Regions from separate parts of the Homo sapiens genome. Here regions 2 and 3 are each linked to region 1. The links come from fine-mapping of genetic effects on gene expression. A gene starts in region 1. Each other region holds a variant in brackets. All regions are shown on one strand. Distances are from middle to middle. Region 1 holds the start of MORN2 (MORN repeat containing 2). Region 2 overlaps DHX57 (DExH-box helicase 57). Region 3 has its middle 11 kb from the start of SRSF7.

Evidence for each region. PIP is the estimated chance that this variant, and not a neighbour inherited with it, causes the effect. A credible set is the group of variants that fine-mapping cannot tell apart.
Region 2: its variant is the best candidate, but not a certain one, in a credible set for the expression of MORN2 in blood mononuclear cells (TOPMed, PIP 0.68).
Region 3: its variant is the best candidate, but not a certain one, in a credible set for the expression of MORN2 in skeletal muscle (GTEx, PIP 0.90).

Annotation. Positions count from the first base shown.
Region 1 is chr2:38,874,896-38,877,658 of GRCh38, forward strand. It overlaps MORN2 (MORN repeat containing 2), which reads left to right and starts at 1,081. Exons shown (of 5, transcript NM_001145450.3): 1 at 1,081-1,215. The coding sequence starts at 1,158. DHX57 (DExH-box helicase 57) reads right to left here and starts at 1,039. Exons shown (of 24, transcript NM_198963.3): 1 at 892-1,039. RefSeq lists an enhancer at 248-1,232.
Region 2 is chr2:38,840,584-38,843,346 of GRCh38, forward strand. It overlaps DHX57 (DExH-box helicase 57), which reads right to left. Exons shown (of 24, transcript NM_198963.3): 12 at 2,422-2,627. It overlaps LOC105374470 (a long non-coding RNA gene), which reads left to right. Exons shown (of 3, transcript XR_001739419.2): 2 at 2,285-2,360. Among named protein-coding and RNA genes, the nearest start is that of DHX57, 34 kb to the right of the region's middle. The variant C/T (reference allele first, on the strand shown) is at 1,568.
Region 3 is chr2:38,738,884-38,741,646 of GRCh38, forward strand. No RefSeq gene overlaps it. Among named protein-coding and RNA genes, the nearest start is that of SRSF7, 11 kb to the right of the region's middle. RefSeq lists a silencer at 1,955-2,127. The variant A/G (reference allele first, on the strand shown) is at 1,372.

The DNA.
Region 1 (2,763 bases):
CTATTATTTCTAAAATTTAGGGAAATGAAATAACAAATCAGTTAGATTAGAACTTCATCTCAAAAACCATGCAGCCCAGGTAAATTTGTGTACTGAGAAACATTAGGAAAAAGCAAGAGGATACTTACGCTGAATCAAAACAAGTTGTCTCACACCAACCCAGAAAATGTTACTTTTACAACTAGATCTGAGATATGCGCTTAACATTTTAAACGAAGATTTACTGACTGTAATGGTGTCCAATACCACTCTCCCAGAGTTTTCAAGGGAATAGGAATTAGGTTGTATAATCCACGTGGTTAGATTCCACTATCTATTCCATCTAGCCCGGGAAGACTCCAACTATCTTTCTTCACCATGGATACAGGGACCTAAGTTTGGCTGTAAGAGTATTCTTTGTTTGATAGCCAAGGCACTGAAAAGTGACTACACACTACTCTCCTCCCAGGCAGATCTCTGACTGATCACAATATATCCAGCTCCATCCAGATATCCAGATCTCGTATCCTTTTTCGAACTCACATCGTCCCCACCCTTCTCCCCAAAAAAGCCACACAGACGGAGTCAGAGAACGGAGCCTGATCCCTTCAATCAACCCCTTAGCCTGCTCCAAGACTGAATTTCACGCCCCGCCCCCCCCGGCCCCAACCTGCAGTTTGAGCGTGGACAACCTCAGCGGCAGAGCCCGCCTTGGTTCGGTATCAGGGCCTGGGATCCTGCTGGTCCAGATTCACCGGCCCCAGGCAGACTGGATGAAACACACTGGGCCGCGATGCTCGTCAGATCCCGACCACTCCTGGAGCAGGAGGCGGCAGACACACTGACAAACAGGGTGACGCGCACACCGTGCGCACAACGCGCATCACTTGTCCGCAGAAGTGGAAGACGTACCTGGCTCGCAGAGTTGGGTCCCGAGCCGGCTGTCGGGAGGTGCTGCCCAAGGGTCAGAGGTCCAAACTGGACTTGGCCACCCTCACGATTCTCACTTGGAGCAGCCCTGCGGTGGCCCAGCTGCAGCGGCACAGTCCCGGCGCCTTCTGATTGGCTCAGCTACAGCCCCTCGCGTATTCGCTTCCGGGTGAGAGGTGCCCGGTCGCCCCAGCAACCAAGTCGCACCTGGAGCTGTCCTAGCGCCTAGTTCTCTCCCGGCCGCAGAGCTGGCCGCCCAGGGGGAGTCGCAGAGTTTGGAAGATCTCTCTAACACCTCTCGGCCAAGTGAGTGTCCCTCCTCCTAACGACCCGGGCAGAGAAGAGCTCCTTTAAGTCGAACTAGCGTGGAGTCAGAACCTGCTTGGCTCCCGGTAACTCCTGTGGGGGTGTGATATATTTCCTGACCGTCTAGCCGAGGGGCACGGGGGAACCCCTGGTCTGGGAATCTAGCTCTGATTCTGTTGTTAATTCGCTGTTGAGACACCCGAGGCGCGTGCCAACCTCCCTGGGCCTCAGTTTCCGCTATGGTGCCGGGTGGTCTCTGTGAGGTTCCCTCTAGCTCTGACGTTCCCAAGTTTCGAATGTAGAACATTTTAGCGGCAATTGAAAACAGTCCAGTTTCTGATATGATTACGTTTAATGCTCTGCTTCATAGGCACTTAACGATTCCTTCCGAAGTGCCCTTCATTCACTAGACGTTCTGTTACTATTAGTACTAAACACGGAGTCGGACAGTGGGGTGAGAAGAGATTTGACTAATCTGCCATCCGTGTCCTGGAGGAACTGGGTGGGATAGGGGATCCCGATACAAAAGCATGGTTTTAATAGAACCTTAAGTACTACAGTAGGAATAGGCCCAGAGTGCCGTGGGGGTTCCTGAAGGAGTCTGAGGTTGACAAGTAATGAGAAGAAAGGCTTTGTGGGAGAGCTCATACCTGAGCTGGGGCTACAAGAATACAATAGCTAATATTTACAGAGTTTAGACACTGGGCTAAGTGCTTTAACTAGATTAGCTCATTTACTTGATTTGCCCCATCTAAGGATGAGGAAACTGAGGCATAAGATAATTATTTGTCCAAGGTCAGAGAAAATGGTGGAGTCTGGATGCAAAGGTAGGTAGTCCGATGCCAGAGCATGAACCCCTAACTACTACACTCTATTTTGCCAACTCTTGAGGATGAATAGCAGTTAACCAGGTAAAGAAGAGAAGGGTGTTCCACCCAGAGTACGGCATGGCATCTGTGGGAAACTACAAGCAGATCTGGTAATCTAGTTAGTTATCATTAGTTAAACACTTAGAAAGTAGCTCTGACGCCTGTAGTTCCAGCTACTTGGGAGGCTGAGGCAGGAGAATGGCGTGAACCCGGGAGGCGGAGGTTGCAGTGAGACGAGATCAAGCCACTGCACTCCAGCCTGGGCGACAGAGCGAGACTCCGTCTCAAAAATAAATAAATAAATAAATAAATTAAATTAAATTAAATTAAATTAAAAAATAAAAAAGAAAGAAAGTAGCTCTGTGTCCCTGCTCTCTTGGAATTTCACATCTTGCAGACATGTAAATAACTAATTAATGAGCACACATGGCAATTTCTGTATACCACCATACTTCACCCTTTATCCACAACCAAATCTTAGAAATTATGGGGAAAAAATAAGCAAACATAACTAAATTCAGATTTTTCTAAGATTTAGTGTTAATTAGTGTCTATATTTAACCCCTAAACGAGATCAGAATTCTAGCAAGATTGCTCTCTATCCTCCACACCATTTCCATATTGATATTACCTGAGTTTTAGTTACAGATTCTTTTTTTTTCTTTTTGAGTTTTTAATT
Region 2 (2,763 bases), 34 kb before region 1:
AACAAACAAAAAACAGAACCAGAAGCTCAGAAAAGCTAAGCAATCAGCCCAGTACCATACAGAAGCTGGTGGCAGAGTCATGTTTCCTGACCTCAACTCCTCCATTCTCCTTCCTTAAAAAGGGGGTCCCAAAGGTACTTTCTGAACTTTAGTAACCTTTGTGCTTAAAATTAGAAAGTCATGGATTAGATTCAGTGATAATTTTAAAAGAAAACTCCAAAATTTTGAAAGAAGCCAAAGGGATTTTCTTTTTTTTGAGACAAGGTCTTGCTCTGTTGGGGCTGGAGTGCACTAGTGCGATCATAGCTCACTGCAACCTTGAATCCCTTTGCTCAAGCAATCCTCCCGCCTCAGCCTCCTGAGTAGCTGGGACTACAGGTGCCAACTACCATGCCCGGCTAATTTTAAAAAACATTTGTAGTAGAGACAAGGTCTCAATGTATTGCCCAGGCTGGTCTTGAACTCCTGGGCTCATGTGATCCTCCTGCCTCAGCCTCCCAAAGTGTTGGGATTATAGGCGTGAGCCACCATGCCCAACCTCAAAGGAATTTTCTTGTTCCATAATTTAATGGAATAAGGGAATCTGAATTATCAGTTGGTATGACGTACAAAAAGCACACAAATTTTTTAGTTAGACATATTTTAATTAGAATCATGGATCTGCACTTACTAGCTGGGCACTATCCTTGTGGGTTTGTATTATACTCATCTAAATGATTCCACTTTATAGATAAGGAAACTGAGGCACAGAGATGATAAAGAACTTGCTCAAGATCATTAGCTGGTTTTATGAGAGCCTTGGGAGTTGAACCCAGATCTATAAAACACAAGTCCATTCTCTTAGCTTTACATCTCTCAATATTGCGAAGATGAAATAAAATGTTAGGGAGCTATGCTTATCTTCCTAAACAACAGAATAATGGCTAATATCTTAATTCCTTGGTGATTACCATTCCACATCCAGGATTGGGAACTGTCTTTGGTAGATGCAGAAAAAGGAAAATTCATTTGCCTTGTATCCTACAGAAGCAGTAACGGGTTGGAAGCTCTTACTCATGAACAATAAACACCCTTTTTTGGGAAGAACTAAGAACAGGGTGACAGTCTACGGAAAAAGGAGCAAGAAGGACAGCTGAGACCTGCTTGTAGTCTAGGCTTCAAGGAAGAAAGCAAAAGTAGTGATCCTGGGGTTTCTATGGGCTCAGTTTAGCTTATATGGATAGAAGACCACATAGGAACAAAGAGTAGCCAGCTAGAGTCTGGCATGGGAGGAGGAAGTACCTAATAACATACATAAAAAGCTCAGCACAGGGTAGGCCTCAAAAGATGTTATTTTAAAAGCCCACGAATAATGCTAAAACTATTGGGATATTAAATGGTTTTAAAATCATGTCAAATATTGCTTCACAAATGACTTATTAACTACAAAAGAAATAGCAATTACCAAGGGAGAAACCTAGCAAACATTACCTTTACCAAGTGAACAAGTTAACATTGCCAATAATGGGACAAGCCAACACCACGGGGCCCATGTGCCTTTTGATATGATGCATTGAGAAATCAAGAT[C/T]GTTTTTGTGATGCTCCAGCCAAAAATGTATAACCTAAATTTAATCATGGAGAAATACTAAACCCAAATGGATGGACATTCTACAAAATAATCTTCAAAAATGTCAAGGTCACTAAAAGACAAAGGATGAGGAGCTGTTCTAGATCAAAGGAGACTAAGAATACATGACTGAATGTAATATATGATCCATGATAGGATCCTGAATCAGGAAAATACAGCAAAAATAAACATTACTGAGATAATTGTTCAAGCCTGAGTATGGACTGTGAATTATATAATTGTATCAGTGTTAAATGTCCTCATTTTGATCACTGTACTGTGGTTACGTAAGAGAATGTCCTTGTTCTTAGGAAAGACACACTAAAGTATTAAGGGTAAAGGAGCATCATATCTGTAACTTACTCTCAGGAGATTCAGAAAAAAAAAATACATGAACCCAGAGCAAATGATAAAGCAAAAAATGAAGTAAACATTAACAACTGGTGAATTGGGGTAAAGGATATATGAGAGTTCATCGTTTAGCCTTGCGAACTTTTCCATAAATTTGAAATCACATCAAAATAAAAAGCTACAAAATGCACAAGAATATAACTTATATTTTACTACCTCACAATTTTTCTCTAATGAGCACATATTTCTTTTATAATTAGAAAAAAAACCCATTGGCAAATATAGTAACAATTGTATTCTAAATATGTATCTGAACTATTTTTCTAGGTTTAAGGTTGCTCTGATGAATTAAAGGCAATGTAACTATGAAACAAGAATCATATTTTTCTTCTTCCGAATCTTGGTAAGAAAGAATACTAGAAATCTTTGGCATAATTATAATATTCCCCCAAGAGGCATGTTACCTTTATAGCGGGCCAGGAGCTGCTTAAAATCTAACTGTTGATCTGGCACTGCATCTTTGACAGAATCCTGATCCTGGAGGTGAAGGGAGAGCCTTAGGTCTTCTTCCACTTCTTCAAATGCAGTTCTGTTCCGCCTTGCTTTAAGCTTTTCCTTTGAAATCTGTTTCATGGACCGCATATATGGGCTCCCATCCTGTAATACATACCTGAGAAAGACAAAGGAATGTGGTTGTGTGTATGTGGTCCTGTTGGTGAGGAGGGAAAGAATTCACCTGTTTCACGTGCTCGTTCAGCAAAATGTCACTGTCTGCCCAATTCACATGCCATCCTTCCACCAGTCCA
Region 3 (2,763 bases), 140 kb before region 1:
TAAGCTGAGATCATGCCACTGCACTCCATCCTGGGTGACAGAGTGAGACACTACCTCAAAAAAAAAAAAAAGGGAATCAAGTAGAAGTTTGTTGAAAACAGTATAATGATGCATAAGAAGTTAACTAGAGAGGCCAGGCACAATGGCTCACACCTGTAATCCCAGCACTTTGGGAGGCTGAGGTGGGCGGATCACTTGAGGACAGTAATTCAAGACCAGCCTGGTCAACCTGGTGAAACCCCATCTCTACTAATACTACAAAAATTAGCCAGGCATCACCATGTGCCTGTGCCTGTAATACTGGGAGGCTGAGGCACGAGAATCACTTGAACCCGGGAGGCAGAGGTTGCAGTGAGCCAACATCACGCCACTGCACTCCAGCCTGGGCAACACAGTGAAACTGTCTCAAAAAAAAACAAAACAAAACAAAAAAAAAGTTAACTAGAGAGAGTCAGAAGTAGATTTGAGACAGCAGAAGAAAGAGTAAGTGAACTTGAAGGTAGATTAATAGGAATTATTCAACCTGAAAAACAGAAAAGAGATTGAAGAAAACTGAACAGAACCTCAGAGACCTGTGAGAAAACAAGCACATGAGCGTATGAGTAATGGGAGTCCAAAGAGAGGGACAAAAAAAAATAATGGCAAAAAACTTCCAAATTTGATGAAAACCAATTATCTATAAATCTAAGAAGCTCAACAAACTTCAAGAATAGAGATTCCCATCTAGATACACCAAACTGTTGATACATTTAAACTGCTGAATGTCAAAAGCAAACAAAATTTGAAAGCAGCAGGAGAAAAATGACTCCTCGCTACAGGGGACCACCAGCACCAGTACAATTAACAGCTGACTTCTCATCTGGAACAATGGAGCCCAGAATGCCGTGGAATGACATGGTCAAAGTGCTTCAAAACCAGAGATTCAATTATCACCCAGAACTATCCTTCAAAAGCAAAGGTGAAATAAAGACTAGGGAATTCATTGCTAGCAAGCCTGCCTTATGAGAAATACTAGAGGAAGTCCTCCATACTGAAATTACACCAGAATCCATGGAAAGAAATAAAGAAGATCAGAAATAGTAAATATATGGATTAATAAGACATTGTATTTTTTCATTTATTCTCTTAAAAGACATAAGATTAGCCGGGCATGGTGGCTCACGCCTGTAATCCCAGCACTTTGGGAGGCTGAGGCAGGTGGATCACAAGGTCAAAAGATCAAGACCATCCTGGCCAACATGGTGAAACCCTGTCTCTACTAAAATTACAAAAATTAGCTGGGCATGGTGGCACGTGCCTGTAGTCCCAGCTACTCAGGAGGCTGAGGCAGGAGGACTGCTTGAACCCAGGAGGCAGAGGTTGCAGTGAACC[A/G]ATATCATGCCACTGCACTCCAGCCTGGCAACAGAGTGAGACTCCGTCTCAAAAAAAAAAAAAAAAAAAAGACGTTAAGATTACACAAAGCAATACTTGTAACACAGTAGTATCAAGTTTAGAATACATAAATATAGCATAAAAGAGGGAAGAGTAAAAGGAAACAGCATTGGAGTGTAATTTCTATATTTTACCAGAGTATTAATCAGAACTAGATTGTGGTAAGATTCAACCACTAACTAAAAAATAGTTTTAAAAAATCAAGAGGAATTAAGTAACACACTTAATTTTTTATACTAAAAAAAATATTTAGGCCAGACATGGTGGCTCATGCCTATAATCCCACCACTTTGGGAGGTCGAGGCGGGTGGATCACCTGAGCTCAGGGGTTTGAAACCAGCCTGGCCAACGTGGTGAAACCCCATCTCTACTAAAAATACAAAATTAGCCGGGCGTGGTGGCTCACACCTGTAATCCCAGCACTTTGGGAGGCTGAGGTGGGTGGATCACCTGAGGTCGGGAATTTGAGACCAGCCTGATCAACATGGAGAAACCCCGTCTCTACTAAAAATACAAAATTAGCCAGGGGTGGTGACACATGCCTATAATCCTAACTACTCAAGAGGCTGAGGCAGGAAAATAGCTTGAACCCGGGAGGTGGAAGTTGCGGTGAGCGAAATCGCGCCACTGCACTCCAGGCTGAGCAACAAGAGCAAAACTCTGTCTCAAAAAAAAAAAAAAAAAATTCTGAATAGAATGTTAACTTTTTTTTAAAGATGATTATTTCTTTGAGCACAGCGACCTCTACTGGTACTAATATAAATTAAAATGCAGTTTCTGTTTTTTTCAGTTTCCTTTCCAGCATGGGATCATTTGGAGACAGAGAAACCTAGAGGACAATAGCAGAATCCTTTGATTCACATGTGAGTGCTGCTACTTCCTTATTATAGTAGAATAAACCAGGCCAATCTTCCAATAACTAACACCACTTCCAGAGCAGTGGTTTTCAATTCTGGTTGCGTATTAGAAGAACCAGGGGAGAAGCGAGGCACTGTGGCTCACACCTGTAATCCTAGCACTTACGGAGGCCAAGGCCGGTGGAATGCTTAAGCCCAGGAGTTTGAGACCCACCTAAGCAACATGGTGAAACCCCATCTTTAAGAAAAAAATACAAAAATTAGCTGGGTGTGGTGACATGTGCCTGTAGTCCCAGCTACTCAGGAGGCAGAGGCAGGAGGATCACCTGAGCCCAGGAAGTCAAGGCAGCGATCATGCCACTGCACTCCAGCCTGGGTGACAGATGCTGTCTCAGAAATCACCAGGTGAAATTTTTACATTAATACCCAGGCTTCACCCTCAGTGATTCTTTCATTTGAATGTCTTTAAGCACCC